3 separate regions of the Homo sapiens genome follow, and regions 2 and 3 are each linked to region 1. The links come from fine-mapping of genetic effects on gene expression. A gene starts in region 1. Each other region holds a variant in brackets. All regions are shown on one strand. Distances are from middle to middle.

What was found. PIP is the estimated chance that this variant, and not a neighbour inherited with it, causes the effect. A credible set is the group of variants that fine-mapping cannot tell apart.
Region 2: its variant is the best candidate, but not a certain one, in a credible set for the expression of BAIAP2L2 in whole blood (INTERVAL, PIP 0.51).
Region 3: its variant is the best candidate, but not a certain one, in a credible set for the expression of BAIAP2L2 in subcutaneous fat (GTEx, PIP 0.50).

Annotation. Positions count from the first base shown.
Region 1 is chr22:38,108,617-38,112,616 of GRCh38, forward strand. It overlaps BAIAP2L2 (BAR/IMD domain containing adaptor protein 2 like 2), which reads right to left and starts at 2,068. Exons shown (of 14, transcript NM_025045.6): 1 at 1,859-2,068; 2 at 517-592. The coding sequence starts at 1,909. It overlaps PLA2G6 (phospholipase A2 group VI), which reads right to left. Exons shown (of 17, transcript NM_003560.4): 16 at 3,888-3,961; 17 at 2,879-3,689. The coding sequence ends at 3,545.
Region 2 is chr22:38,150,907-38,155,173 of GRCh38, forward strand. All of the region lies in intron 2 of PLA2G6 (phospholipase A2 group VI), which reads right to left. Among named protein-coding and RNA genes, the nearest start is that of PLA2G6, 29 kb to the right of the region's middle. The variant T/C (reference allele first, on the strand shown) is at 2,460.
Region 3 is chr22:38,189,212-38,193,478 of GRCh38, forward strand. No RefSeq gene overlaps it. Among named protein-coding and RNA genes, the nearest start is that of PLA2G6, 9.5 kb to the left of the region's middle. The variant G/A (reference allele first, on the strand shown) is at 2,520.

The DNA of each region.
Region 1 (4,000 bases):
GCTATTGGCAGGTATGAGCGGCCACAGCGGACGGGTACAAGGGTTTGCACGGGGACCGAGTGAATGTCAAGGCCAGCTGCAGGGTGTGTGGGTGGTGGCCAGTTGAAGTGAGGAAGCCAGCTGCTGTGTGAGCCTGGGTGCAGAGGTGGGACTGAGTATAGGGGTGGGTTCAGCTGGTGGCATCCAGGTGACGCCTAGAAATGTATGCACTGTCAGGGGCTGCCCTGGGGCTGTGTGGGCCTGCAGGGCCTGGTACTGCATCATGGGAGTGTCTGGAGGCACCTGAAGGAGGGGGCAATGAGGGGTGCTGGGTGTGGACTGGGGTGCGTGGGCACAGGAGAGTGGGGGTGCATAAGGCCTCTCTGGCTGCAGAGGTGTGAGGGTGAGGGTGGTGGGTAGGAGGGTGTAGGGTTGAGGATGAACAGGTGTGGGATGCAGAGAATCTGGGAGGGGCCTGGGTGGGTGGGAACAGCAGAGGCCCAGGGCTGGGGCTCGGTGGCCCGGGCAGGCACTCACCGTGGAAGGCACGCAGGTAGTTGTTGCCCAGGTACACCAGGTTCTCCAGGGCGGGGTTAAACTGCTCCATGATGCTCTGGACCCCAGGGTCAGGGGAGGAAAAAGGTGTAGAGATGGGGGAGCGAGAAGGAACCACGGATGGAGTCAAGTCACCAGGCGTCAGGGACAGGGCACCCCCAGCCCAGTGAGAAGCCCCAGACTTTGGGGGGCCCATCTACAAACCTAGGCTCACCCAGAATCCTGGCTCTTGGCTGCAGGGACCTCAGAGCCCATCTTTTGGGGTCCTGTTCTAAGCTGTGGTCCCCTCACAGCCAGCTCCCGCTTACGTCTGCTCTGGCGGGACCGAGGTGCCTCCCGAGATGGTGCACCTGGAAGGTTCTCCTCCTCCCGCTGGGCAGAAGCTGGCCCGCCTGCTGTGGTCCCCACTGGGCACGGCTCAGCCCTGCCCTGTGTCCAGGCCTTGCCGGGCTACACGCCTGGGGCTGCCAACAGTCACCCCCGGGGCAAGGGCAGCTCTCGCCCTCCTCCGAGAACAGCCCCCCATGGGCAAGGCTGTGGCTGGATTAGTGTGGGCCTCCTCGGGCTGGGGCCGGGCAGAGAGCTCCCCGGATGGTGAAGACGGGCCTGGACTTGGGCCTGGACTTGGACTTGGGTCTCGGTTCAAATCCCAGCAGCACCTCTTCCTCCCTCCGTGACCTTGAATGAGCTGTTTAACCTCTTTGGTCTCAGTTTTCTCATCTATCAAGCAGGGTGGTCATTTTCCACCTCACAGGTGGGTGGTGTGAGGCCTCCAGGTGAAAGGGTCCTGCACACAGGAGGCGCTCAATAAATGTCTGTGGCGGCTGCAACAACCCCCCGGGGGTGAAGTAGGAAGTCTGAGGGGCTCAGAAATGAGAGAGACAGAGACAGGGAGAGACAGAGAGAGAGAGAGAGACAGAGAGAGAGAGAGACAGAGAGAGAGAGAGACAGAGAGAGGGAGAGAGAGAGGGAGAGAGAGAGAGAGAGAGAGAGAGAGAGGGAGAGACAGAGAGAGAGAGGGAGGGTCTTTCTTTATTCCCAGGCCGGGCAGCCAGGCCCTTCTCATCCAGACTCAACTCTCCCCACCCTGGGCCTTGGGCTCCCTCCTGCCTTGTCCAGCATCTGGGAGTTGGGGGTTCCCGCTGTATGGCTGAGTGCTCTCGGGGATCCTTACCCCCGTACCCACCCCTGGCCCAGCCTGGCTCCAGGCTTCCCTTTCCAGGACATCTGTAGCCCCGGCTGGCCCTCCGTCCTCCAGAGCGGGCCTGATTTCTGTGCCCTGGGAGGAGGGGCTCAGGCCTGGCTTGGCCACCCATGTGCTCACCTTGTAGATGGCCATGGTGGACCTGTAGAACTGGTCCATCTCGGGGGCCATGGAGGGGCTGTCCCGGGTCTGAGCAGGAGGCTGGGAGCTGGTGGCGATGGCACAGCCGGGAGCAGTGGTAGGTAGTCCCTCAGGTGCCCACGACTCAGCTGGCAGCGAGGAAGCCTCGGAGAGGGACCTGGAGATGGAGGCCTGCCTCAGAGGAGTGGCAGCTTAATTATTCACCAACTCGGGATGTCAGAATGTGATCTGGGGCGTAACCAGATCCGGCAGGGAAGGCATCCTGTGCCGGGCAGGCTCGTGTGACCTGCCCTTCAATTATTCACCCCTTGGAGCTGTGGGCTGATACAAGTGCCCATGTGGATGAGCCCCCTCCTGGGTCACCCCCTCCTCAAGGACCCCAACCCTGGGGGGCCCCGCCCTCCCACCTGCCTATACCAGGCATTGCCCACCTTACTGGGCGGGCGCTGCCCGATGCCCTCCCCCAGGACTCTCTCTGCCAGACCCAGCAGCAGCAGCCCCTGGAGGGGAACGCCGCTTTACTTCTCACTGTCCTCAGGCCTGCGGCTCACAGTGGGGCCACGCCCTCTGAGCTTGGCTCCCACAGCCGCTCTGGCCCGCCCAGCTCCTCCACTTGCCGGAGCAGGAGCAGCACAAACGCTGGAGTTGCCCAGCCCTGGGCAGACCTCGGCCCTGCACACGCGCTGCCTGTCCACGCGGAGTCCCCGGCCTCTCTGGGTGACAAATGGGGCTCTCCCTGGTCCTCCAAGATGAAGTTGAAGATTGTGGCCCTCCTTGGGCCTGCCGGGGGTATGTGGGCCTGGCAGCTGCCTCTGCATACCCTAAGGGCCGGTTTAGGGGAGGCCTAGAGGAAAGAGGAGGTGTCCCTGCCCAGGGATCCTGGAAAACAGAGTGTCCGGGTACAAAGGAAAAGTCCGGTCAAGGCCAAGGGTCAAGGCCGAGGGGAGCCGGGGGTCAGGGGAACAGGTGGATCTCACACCACTGCACACACAACACAGGTGAACTTGAATCCAAATGATTTATTTCAGTTTTGGCTCTTAAGCCACTTCCATTGGGAAGAAGAAACTCCCAGGAGTGACCTTTGAGAGCTGAGGGTTCTCGGGGTGGGGCAGTGTGAGGGGCTGGGCCAGTGTGAGGGGCAAAGTCCAACGGGCATCCCACTCCTGCGGCCTGGGCTTTCCCAGCTGATGGGGTGGGGGACACCCATTTCTTTAGTCCCAGCCCCCAGGGAACGGAGCAGAGGGCAGAGGGAGTGGGCTGCACCCACCAGGAAGCCTGGGAGTGCCCTTGCTGGGGGCTGGGGCAGAGGCAGCCCGGCAGGCCCTCAGGGAGGCTGGGGCTGGGGGCAGGGGTACGGTTGTGCCCGGGTACCCTTAATGTTTGAGCTGATGGGGGAGTCAGTTGTCCTTGACAGTCAGGGAAAGGGGCCAAAGGGGGCTCTAGACTTTCCCAGCCTGGAATGACAGAAAGTGCTGGAAGGCGGGGTTAGTGGGAGACAGGCCTTCAGGACCAGCCTCGGGCAGGCAGCTTGGCATTCTCCCAGGCCTGGTCTATGGACTCAGAGGTGCCTGGGCCCAGATCTGCCCGGGAGGGCAGTGGCTGGGCTTGGCCTGGCAGGGGCTGAATGGACGAGGTCAGCTGGGGCCGGTGAGAGGCTGGGGACCCTCAGGGTGAGAGCAGCAGCTGGATGAGCTTCTGGAACTCCTCGCGGTGCTCATAGATGTAGACCTCGGTCTCCCAGAGGGCGTTGACCAGCACTGTGTCACTGACCTCATCCAGCATGATGTCCGTCCCCAGCTGGGGGTTCAATCTGTTCGGGCCAGGGAGGAGGGGGTCACCCTAGGATGCTCAGGCTGGGCAGGGGACGCCAGCTAGGACCAGGGTGGGCTTGGGGAACAGAGCAGACCCTTGGGGAAGGGAAAGTCCACACTAGGGCTGGGAGGGGAAGGTCGGTGAGTCCGACCACGCCAGGGCACGGGGCCAAGGGCTGGGGCGGCTGAGCCCTCACCTGAAGTACTGGATGCCGACCATCTCGCACCAGGCCCGTGCCCGGTCCACAGCCCGCCCGTCTGGATCCGTGCACTGGTGAGAAGCAGCCTTGGTGAGTGCCGGGCCCACACC
Region 2 (4,267 bases), 42 kb after region 1:
TGAAACCCCGTCTCTACTAAAAATACAAAAATTAGTCAGGTGTAGTGGTGCATGCCTGTAGCCCCAGCTACTCAGGAGGTTGAGGGAGGAGAATCGCTTGAACCTGGGAGGCGGAGATCGTGCCACTGTACTCTAGCCTGGGCCACAGAGCAAGACTCTGTCTCTAAATAAATAAATGCCAATGAGAATTCTGTACTTAGCACACAAAACAAAATGAAAACAAAAACAAAACCTTCAAGAATAAGGTTAAAATTAAAACATTTCTCTAGTCAAACAAAAAACCCAGAGACTTTGTCATTAGCAGACCTACACGAAAGGAAATACAAAAGCTTTTTCTTTCCTTCTTTTTTTTTTTTGGAGACATGGTCTCACTCCTGTCACCCACGCTGGAGTGCAGTGGTGCAATCAACGCTCACTGCAGCCTCAACCTCCCAGGTTTAAGTAATCCTCCCACCTCAGCCTCCCGAGTAGCAGGGACGTGAACCACCACACCTGGCTAATTTTTTGTATTTTCAGTAGAGACAGGGTTTTGCCACGTAGCCCAGGCTGGTCTGGAAATCCTGGGCTCAAGCGATCCTCCCGCCTAGGCTTCCCAAAGTGCTGGGATTACAGGTGTGAGCCATCGTGCTGGGCCAAAAGCTTTCTCTTCATGTGGAATGAACACGATCCTAGATGGATGCTTAAAGAGGCATGAAAGAATGAAGCACCATGGCAAGTTAAATATGTGGGGGGATCTAAATAAGTATTGATGGTATAGCGTCTTGTTGGGTTTAAAATAAAAACTAAATAAAACAACAGCACACAGCATCGAAGCCTGGAAGGGAATACATAGCTAAAGGATTCTAAGACCAACTTATTGTTCTGGAAGATACTAATGGACCTTGAGTAAGGCAGAGATAAATCTCGTAATCTCTAAGGTTCTGTCAAGATGTGCAAAAGGTTTCAGACTTTGCCCCGCTTGTTGTTGTCAAAGTTTTGCTCCAGAAGAAGACACAATCTTGATTATGCTGAAAAGTAAGCAAACTTACCCTGTGCTCTACAAGGAGACCCTAACTCTATTTTCCAAGGCTGTTTGCTGTATAAACATCCTTTGAAGGTAGCCTGGAACAAAGGTAGTGCTATAATTTGGATTTCTGCCCCCCAAACCTCATGTTAAATTTTGATTCCAATGTTGGAGGTGGGGGGCTAATGGGAGGTGTTTGGGTCATAGGGGTGGATCCCTCATGAATGAATGCCCTCCCTGTGGGGTGGGGGTGAGTGAGTTTTCACTCTATTAGTTCCTGTAAGAACTGGTTGTTAAAAAGAGCCTGGCACTTTTTTTTTCTTTGAGACAGAGTTTCGCTCTTGTCGCCCAGGTGATCTTGGCTCACTGCAACCTCCACCTCCTGGATTCAAGAAATTCTCCTGCCTCAGCCTCCCGAGTAGCTAGGATTACAGGCATGCACCACCATGCCCAGCTAATTTTTTTGTATTTTTTTTAGTAGAGACAGGGTTTCTCCATGTTGGTCAGGCTGGTCTCAAAACTCCCGACCTCAGGTGATCCACTCGCCTTGGCCACCCAAAGTGCTGGGATTACAGGCACGAGCCACTGTGCCTGGCCCGTGCCTGGCACTTTTTAACAACCAGTTAACAACTTATTTTCTCTTCCTCACTTCCTTTCTTGCCATGTGACACTGGTAAGATGCTGGCACCATGTTTCTTGTATGGCCTGAGGAGCCATGAGACAAATAAAACCTCTTTTCTATGTATAATACTCAGACTTAGGTATTCCTTTATAGCAACACTAAACAGACAAAAACAGGTAGTCAATGTCTCTGCTAGCAGGATGTATGGAAATATGAGAGAGACTCTTGGAGAACGATCTCCCAACAGTTACTACTAAAAAGTGTATAACTTCCAAGCTAAGAGACAGAAAAAACAGAATCATATGAAAACGCTCAATCACAAATTGCAAAAGCATTATGCTAAGTGAAAAAGTCAGACTCATAAGACTACACGCTATATGATTAAAAGCAGCAGTGATGGAATGCACATAGGTATAGGAAGACGTCCTCCTGCGGGGAAAAAAAAAAAGGAAGCACATAGGTGTTGCCCAGGGATGGGGTGGGTGCCATGGACTATAAAGGAGGGTGAAGGAAATTTGGAGAATAACAGAAATGTCTTATATCTTGATTGTGGTGGTGGTTACATGGGGGTGTTCTGTTATCAAATGAAGGTGGAGGCAAAGCAAGATGGCCAAATAGGGCTGGGCGCGGTGGCTCATGCCTGTAATCCCAGCACTTTGGGAGGCCGAGGTGCGTGGATCACCTGAAGTCAGGAGTTTGAGACCAGCCTGGCCAACACGGAGAATCCCCGTCCCTACTAAAAATACAAAAATTAGCCAGGCATGTGGCCGCCGCCCCGTCTGGCAAGTGAGGAGCGCCTCTGCCCGGCCCCCGCCCTGTCTGGGAAGTGAGGAG[T/C]GCCTCTCCTGGCCGCCGTGCAACCTTCCAAGTGTGAAGCGACAGCCTTGTGTGTGATCTTTCTGCCTTCCCCAAGTTTGCATTTTCGACATTAAAGTTTACTTTTTAATTGAAAAAAAAAGTAGCCAAGCATGGTGGCAGGCACCTGTAATCCCAGCTACTGGGGAGGCTGAGGCTGGAGAATCGCTTGAACCCAGGAGGCAGAGGTTGCAGTGAGCCGAGATCGCGCCACTGCACTCCAGCCTGGGTGAAAGAGCAAAACTCCGTCTCAAAAAAAAAAAAAAAAGATGCCCAAATAGAAACCTCCACCAATTGTCCTCCCTGGAGGAAAACCAAATTGAACTATACACACAAAAAAGTACCTTCATAAAAAGCAAAAATCAGCCTAGGTACCAGCTCAGCTACAGTGTGGCAGAGCACCAAGAGGGCTCTTGGGGTCCCAGATTCTAAGTGTTGGCTGTGGGGTGGCAGTTCTGGACCTGCCCTGGGTCAGAGGGGAGCCCACTACCCTAAAGGGAGAGTCCCAGGCCTGGCAGTGTTCAGTTGCTTCAAGAGCCCTTAGGCCCTGAATGAACGTTGGCAGTGGCCTGGCAGCACTGCCACAGGGCTGGGGCAGTGGTGGCCATGGAGAGAGACTTCTCTGCTTGTGGAAAGGGGAGGGAAGAGCAGGAAGGACTTTGCCTTATGGCTTGGGTATCAGCCAGGCTGTAATAGAATAGAGCACTGGGGAGATTACTAAGGTTTCTGACTGCAGGCCCTGCCTCCCAGATGGCATCTAAGGACCTTCCCAGGATGGGGGTAGGGGGAACTTGCTGCCTTGAAGGGAAGGACATAATCTCACTGGCTTCACCACCTGCTGACTGTAGAGCCCTAGTGCCTTAAGCAAACGTAGGCAGTAGCCAGGCAGTGGAGACTGTAGGCCTTGGGTGAGACCCAGTGCTGTGCTGGCTTCAGGTCTGAGCCAGCATAGTCCTAGTGATAGTGGCCACAGAGGTGCCTGTGTCACCCCTCTCCTAGCTCCAGGCGGCCCAGCACAGAGAGAGAGACTCCACTTTTAGGGGAGAAAGTAAGGGAAGAGAACAAGAGCCTCTGCCTGGTAATCCAGAGAATTCTTCCAGATCTTATCCAAGACCACCCAAGTGGTACCTTTACGAGTCTGCAAGAGCCATAGTATTAGTAGGCTTGGGGTGCCCCCTAATGCAGATATGGCTGCAGTGACCAAAAACTTAGATCACAATACCCAAGTCCCTTTTATTACCTGGAAAGTCTTCCTAAGAAGAACAGATACAAACAAGCCCAGACTGCAAAGACTACAATAAATACCTAACTTCAATGCCCAGACACTGACGAACATCACAAGCATCAAGACCATACAGGAAAACATGACCTCACCAAATGAACTAATTAAGGTACCAGTGGCCAATTCTGGAGAGACAGAGATATGTGACCTTTCAGACAGAGAATTCAAAATAGCTGTTTTGAGGGAACTCAGTGAAATTCAAGCTAACACAGAGAAGGAATTCAGAATCCTAACAGATAAACTTAGCAAAGAGATTGAAATAATTTAAAAGAATCAAGCAGGCTGGGCACAGTGGCTCACGCCTGTAATCCCAGCACTTCGGAAGGCCAAGGCAGGCGGATCACAAGGTCAGGAGATCGAGACTATCCTGGCTAACATGGTGAAATCCCATCTCTACTAAAAATACAAAAAATTAGCCAGGCGTGGTGGCGGGCGCCTGTAATCCCAGCTACTCGGGAGGCTGAGGCAGAAGAATGGTGTGAACCCGGGAGGCAGAGCTTGCAGTGAG
Region 3 (4,267 bases), 81 kb after region 1:
GGGATGGAGAGGGATGGTGGGGGATGGTTAGGGATGGTGAGGGATGGTGAAGGATGGCGAAGGACATGAGGATTTGGAGAGGCTGAGCAGGGGTATTTCAGGCAAAGATGCAGGGTGTGTGCCAAGCCTCTCACGATGGGGGAATCTAATGTGGAGTTCTTGAGGGTCAGAGTGTGCAAGCTCTTAATCCCTTTGTCCCTTCTCTTGTGCTTCTCGTCCTCATTTATGTTTTGTCAGCCATTAATTATGAAATACCTGCTATGTGCATGACCTTACTCTTTTTCTTTTCTTTTCTTCTTTTTGACTCAAAGTCTCGCTTTGTTGCCAGGCTGGAGTGCAGTGGCGCGATCTCAGCTCATTGCAACCTCTGCCTCCTGGGTTCAAGAGATTCCCCTGCCTCAGCCTCCTGAGCAGCTGGGACTACAGGCGCGTGCCACCACACCCGGCTAATTTTTGTATTTTTAGTAGAGACGGGGTTTCACCATGTTGGCCAGGATGGTCTCAATCTCTTGACCTCATGATCCGCCCACCTCGGCCTTCAAAGTGTTGGGATTACTGGCATGAGCCACCATGCCTGGCCGGCCTTACTCTTAGTATGGTGGGGACACTAAAGACATCTCTATTCTTGTCCTTGGGGCTCACAATTTAATACAAACTTGTCTCAGATATACAGATAATAGTTTATTGTGAAAAAGCACTGGAATATAAAGGCAAATATATTTTTCCATATCATCGCATGTTCTATGGTCTGAATGTGTGTATCACCCCAAAATACTTTTTATTTATTTTTTATTGTTTTGAGATAGAGTCTTGCTCCATCGCCGAGGCCGGAGTACAGTGGCATGATCTCGGCTCTCTGCAACCTCCACTTCCCGGGTTCGAGCGATTCTCCTGCCTCTGCCTCCCCGAGTAGCTGGAATTACAGGCGCCCACCACCAAGCCCAGCTAATTTTTGTATTTTTAGTAGAGATGGGGTTTCATCATGTTGGCCAGGCTGGTCTTGAACTCCTGACCTCAAGCTATCTGCTTACCTCAGCCTCTCAAAGTGCTGGGATTACAGGGGTGAGCCACTGTGCCCAGCCCCTACCTTTTTTTTTTTTTTTTTTGAGACAGAGTCTTGCTTTGTCACCCAGGCTGGAGTGCAGTGGCTCAAACGTGGCTCACTGCACCCTCCATTTCCTGGGCCCAAGCAATCCTCCCACCTCAGCCTCCCAAGTAGCTGGAACCACAGGAGAGCACCACCACACCTGGTTAATTTAAAAAAATTTTTTTTGTAGAGATGGGGCTTGCTATGTTGCCCCAGCTGGTCTTGAACTCCTGGGCTCAAGCAATCCTCCTGCCTTGGCCTCCCAAAGTCCTGGTATTACAGGTGTGAGCCACCACACCCAGCCCTGATAATCCTCTTTTATGTCCCAGGGGCTCCTGAAATTCTACTGCAAATCACACATTCATGAGTAGGCTGAATCACTGTGCCCCCAGGATGCAATGGTAATGAAACGGAATTGCAGGGATCTCCAGAGAATCAATCCGTGTTTGGCTGCCCTGCCATAGCGTTACACAGGGCATGAGGGCAATCAGTGATATAAACACAGTCCCCACTGTCAGGGAGCCAAAGGACATTGTAGGACCGAGGTCCCCAACCTTTTTGGCACCAGGGACTGGTTTTGTGGAAGACAGTTTTTCCACGGAGCCGGGGGATGGTTTGGGAATGATCCAAGTCCATTACATTGATTGTGCATTTTACTTCTATTATTATTACATTGTAATACATAATGAAATAATTATACAACTCATCACAATGTAGAATCAGTGGGAGCCCTGAGCTGGTTTTCCTGCAACTAGATGGTCCCATCTGGGGGTGATGGGAGACAGTGACAGATCATCAGGCAGACAGATCATCATATTCTCATAAGGAATGCAAAACCTAGATCCTTCGCATGCGAAGTCACAATAGGGTTTGAGCTCCTATGAGAATCCAATGCCGCCGCTGATCTGAGAGAAAGTGGAGCTCAGGTGGCAATGTGAGTGAGCAATGGGCAGCGGCTGTAAATATGCTGTAAATATCGATGAAGCTTCACTCGCTCACCCGCCCGCCGCTCACCTCCTGCCGTGCAGCCGAGTTCCTAACAGGCCATCGACCCAGACCAGGGGTTAGGGACCCCTGTTCTTAGAAACTAATGATACTCTCTTCCTTCCTCCCTGTCTCGCCACAGCCTGACCCTCTTGCTTGAGCCTAGGACAAGGCCCAGTGGAACAAGGACAACTCCTCCATTCATCCCATTAACATTCATCATGCTCCCAGCGTAGGCACGGTGGCCTAGGCAGGGCATGGTGGCTCACGCCTGTAATCCCAGTACTTTGGGAAGCTGAGGCAGGCAAATCATTGAGGCCAGGAGTTCGAGGCCAGCCTAGCCAACAGAGTGAAACCCCATCTCTACTAAAATAAAAAATACAAAAAAAAAAATTAACCAGGCGTGGCGATGCACGCCTGTCATCCCAGCTACTTGGGCGGCTGAGGC[G/A]TGAGAATCGCGTGAACTCAGGAGGCAGAGGTTGCAGTGAGCCGAGATCACGACACTGCACTCCAGCCTGGGTGACAGTGCAGGACTGTGTCTCAGAAAAAAAGAAAAGAAGAAAGAAAAACATTGATCATGCTTCTGCTATGTGCCATGGCCCGGGCAAAGCTCTGGAGACACAAAAATGAAAGGATGTAATCCTGGTCCTCAAAAAGCATGTGGGTTAAGAGAAGACAGCCATGAAGACACAGAACACCGAGTCAGAGAGGAAAGTGCTATCATGAGGGATACACTGGTAGGTTTCCTACCTTGTACACAGGAACCTGAGTCAGCCTGGGGATGATCTGGGAAGCCTGCTGAACAAAGTGGCATCTGAGCTGGGGACTGAAGCACAAGCCGGGGAGGGAGTTCCAGGAAGAAGGACTGGGAAGATTGAAAGCACGAGGCAGTAGAAGAGAATGATGGGTATGAGGACAGAGTTCACGGTGGCTGCAGCTGAGAGGAGGTGGTGGAAGCAGGCAGAGGCCAGATCGAGGAGGCTTATGGAAAGAGTTTACACTTTGTCCTGACAGCACTGGGGAGCCATGGAAGGGTTGTGAGCAGAGCAGTAGCCTGGCCAAGTTTAGGTTTTAGAAAGCTCTCTCTATCCTCTGCATGGAGGCTAGAGGCAGGGGGACCAGGCAGAAGGCTGCTGCAATTGTCCTGGAGCCAGGTGCTGTGGCTTGAACAGAGGCCATGGCTGAGGGAAGAGAGAGGCTGGAGAGAAGTTAAGGAGATGAGATCACTGAAGCCTGGTGACTTGTTTGCTGTGGGAGGGAGGGAGAGGGTGAGGTGAGCATGATGGCCTGGTTTCTCTCCAGGGTGACTGGGGAGGAGGTGGCATCATCAACCTGTTGGAGAAATTAGGTGGGGAGGGTGGCGCTAAGCTCCACTGAGACAACGTGGAGTTAGACGTGCCAGGGAAGGGCAGGGGAAAATACATGTCATCCATGCAGTTGCTTAAGCAGATCTGGTCCATGAGAGACAGCTGGGAGCCCAAAATAGAGATCTGGGAGTCCTCAACATCAGGTGGCACCTGAAATCTTGAGGTAGGGATAAGGTTCCCCAGCAATAAGAAAAGAGGGCAAAGGCTAAAGCTCTGAGCCTCGCTAAGAATTAAGAGGCCAAGATGGAGGGCCAGGGATGAAAGCTGAAAAGATAGGAGGGAAATCTGAGCTTTAGAAGGCAAGGGGAGGTAGGCATGTGGCTGCATGCCTGTAACCCCAGCTATTCGGGAGGCTGAGACGGGAGGATGGCTGGAGCCCAGGAGTTCAAGGTTACAGTGAGCTATGATGGCACTACTGCACTCCAGCCTGGGCAAGGGAGGGAGACCCTGTCTCAAAACAAAGACAAAAACACCAAGGAGAAAACAGTGTTTCCAAAAAGAGGGGAAGAATAGGCCGGGCACAGTAGCTCATGCCTGTAATCCCAGCACTTTGGGAGGCCGAGGTGGGTGGATCACCTGAGGTCAGGAGTTCGAGACCAGCCTGGCCAACATGGTGAAACCCTGTCTCTACTAGAAATACAAAAATGCCGGGTGCAGTGGCTCACGCCTGTAATCCCAACACTTTGGGAGGCTGAGGCGGGTGGATCGTGAGGTCAGGAGATCGAGACCATCCTGGCTAACACGGTGAAACCCCGTCTCTACTAAAAATACAAAAAATTAGCCGGGCGTGGTGGCGGGGGCCTGTAGTCCCAGCTACTTGGGAGGCTGA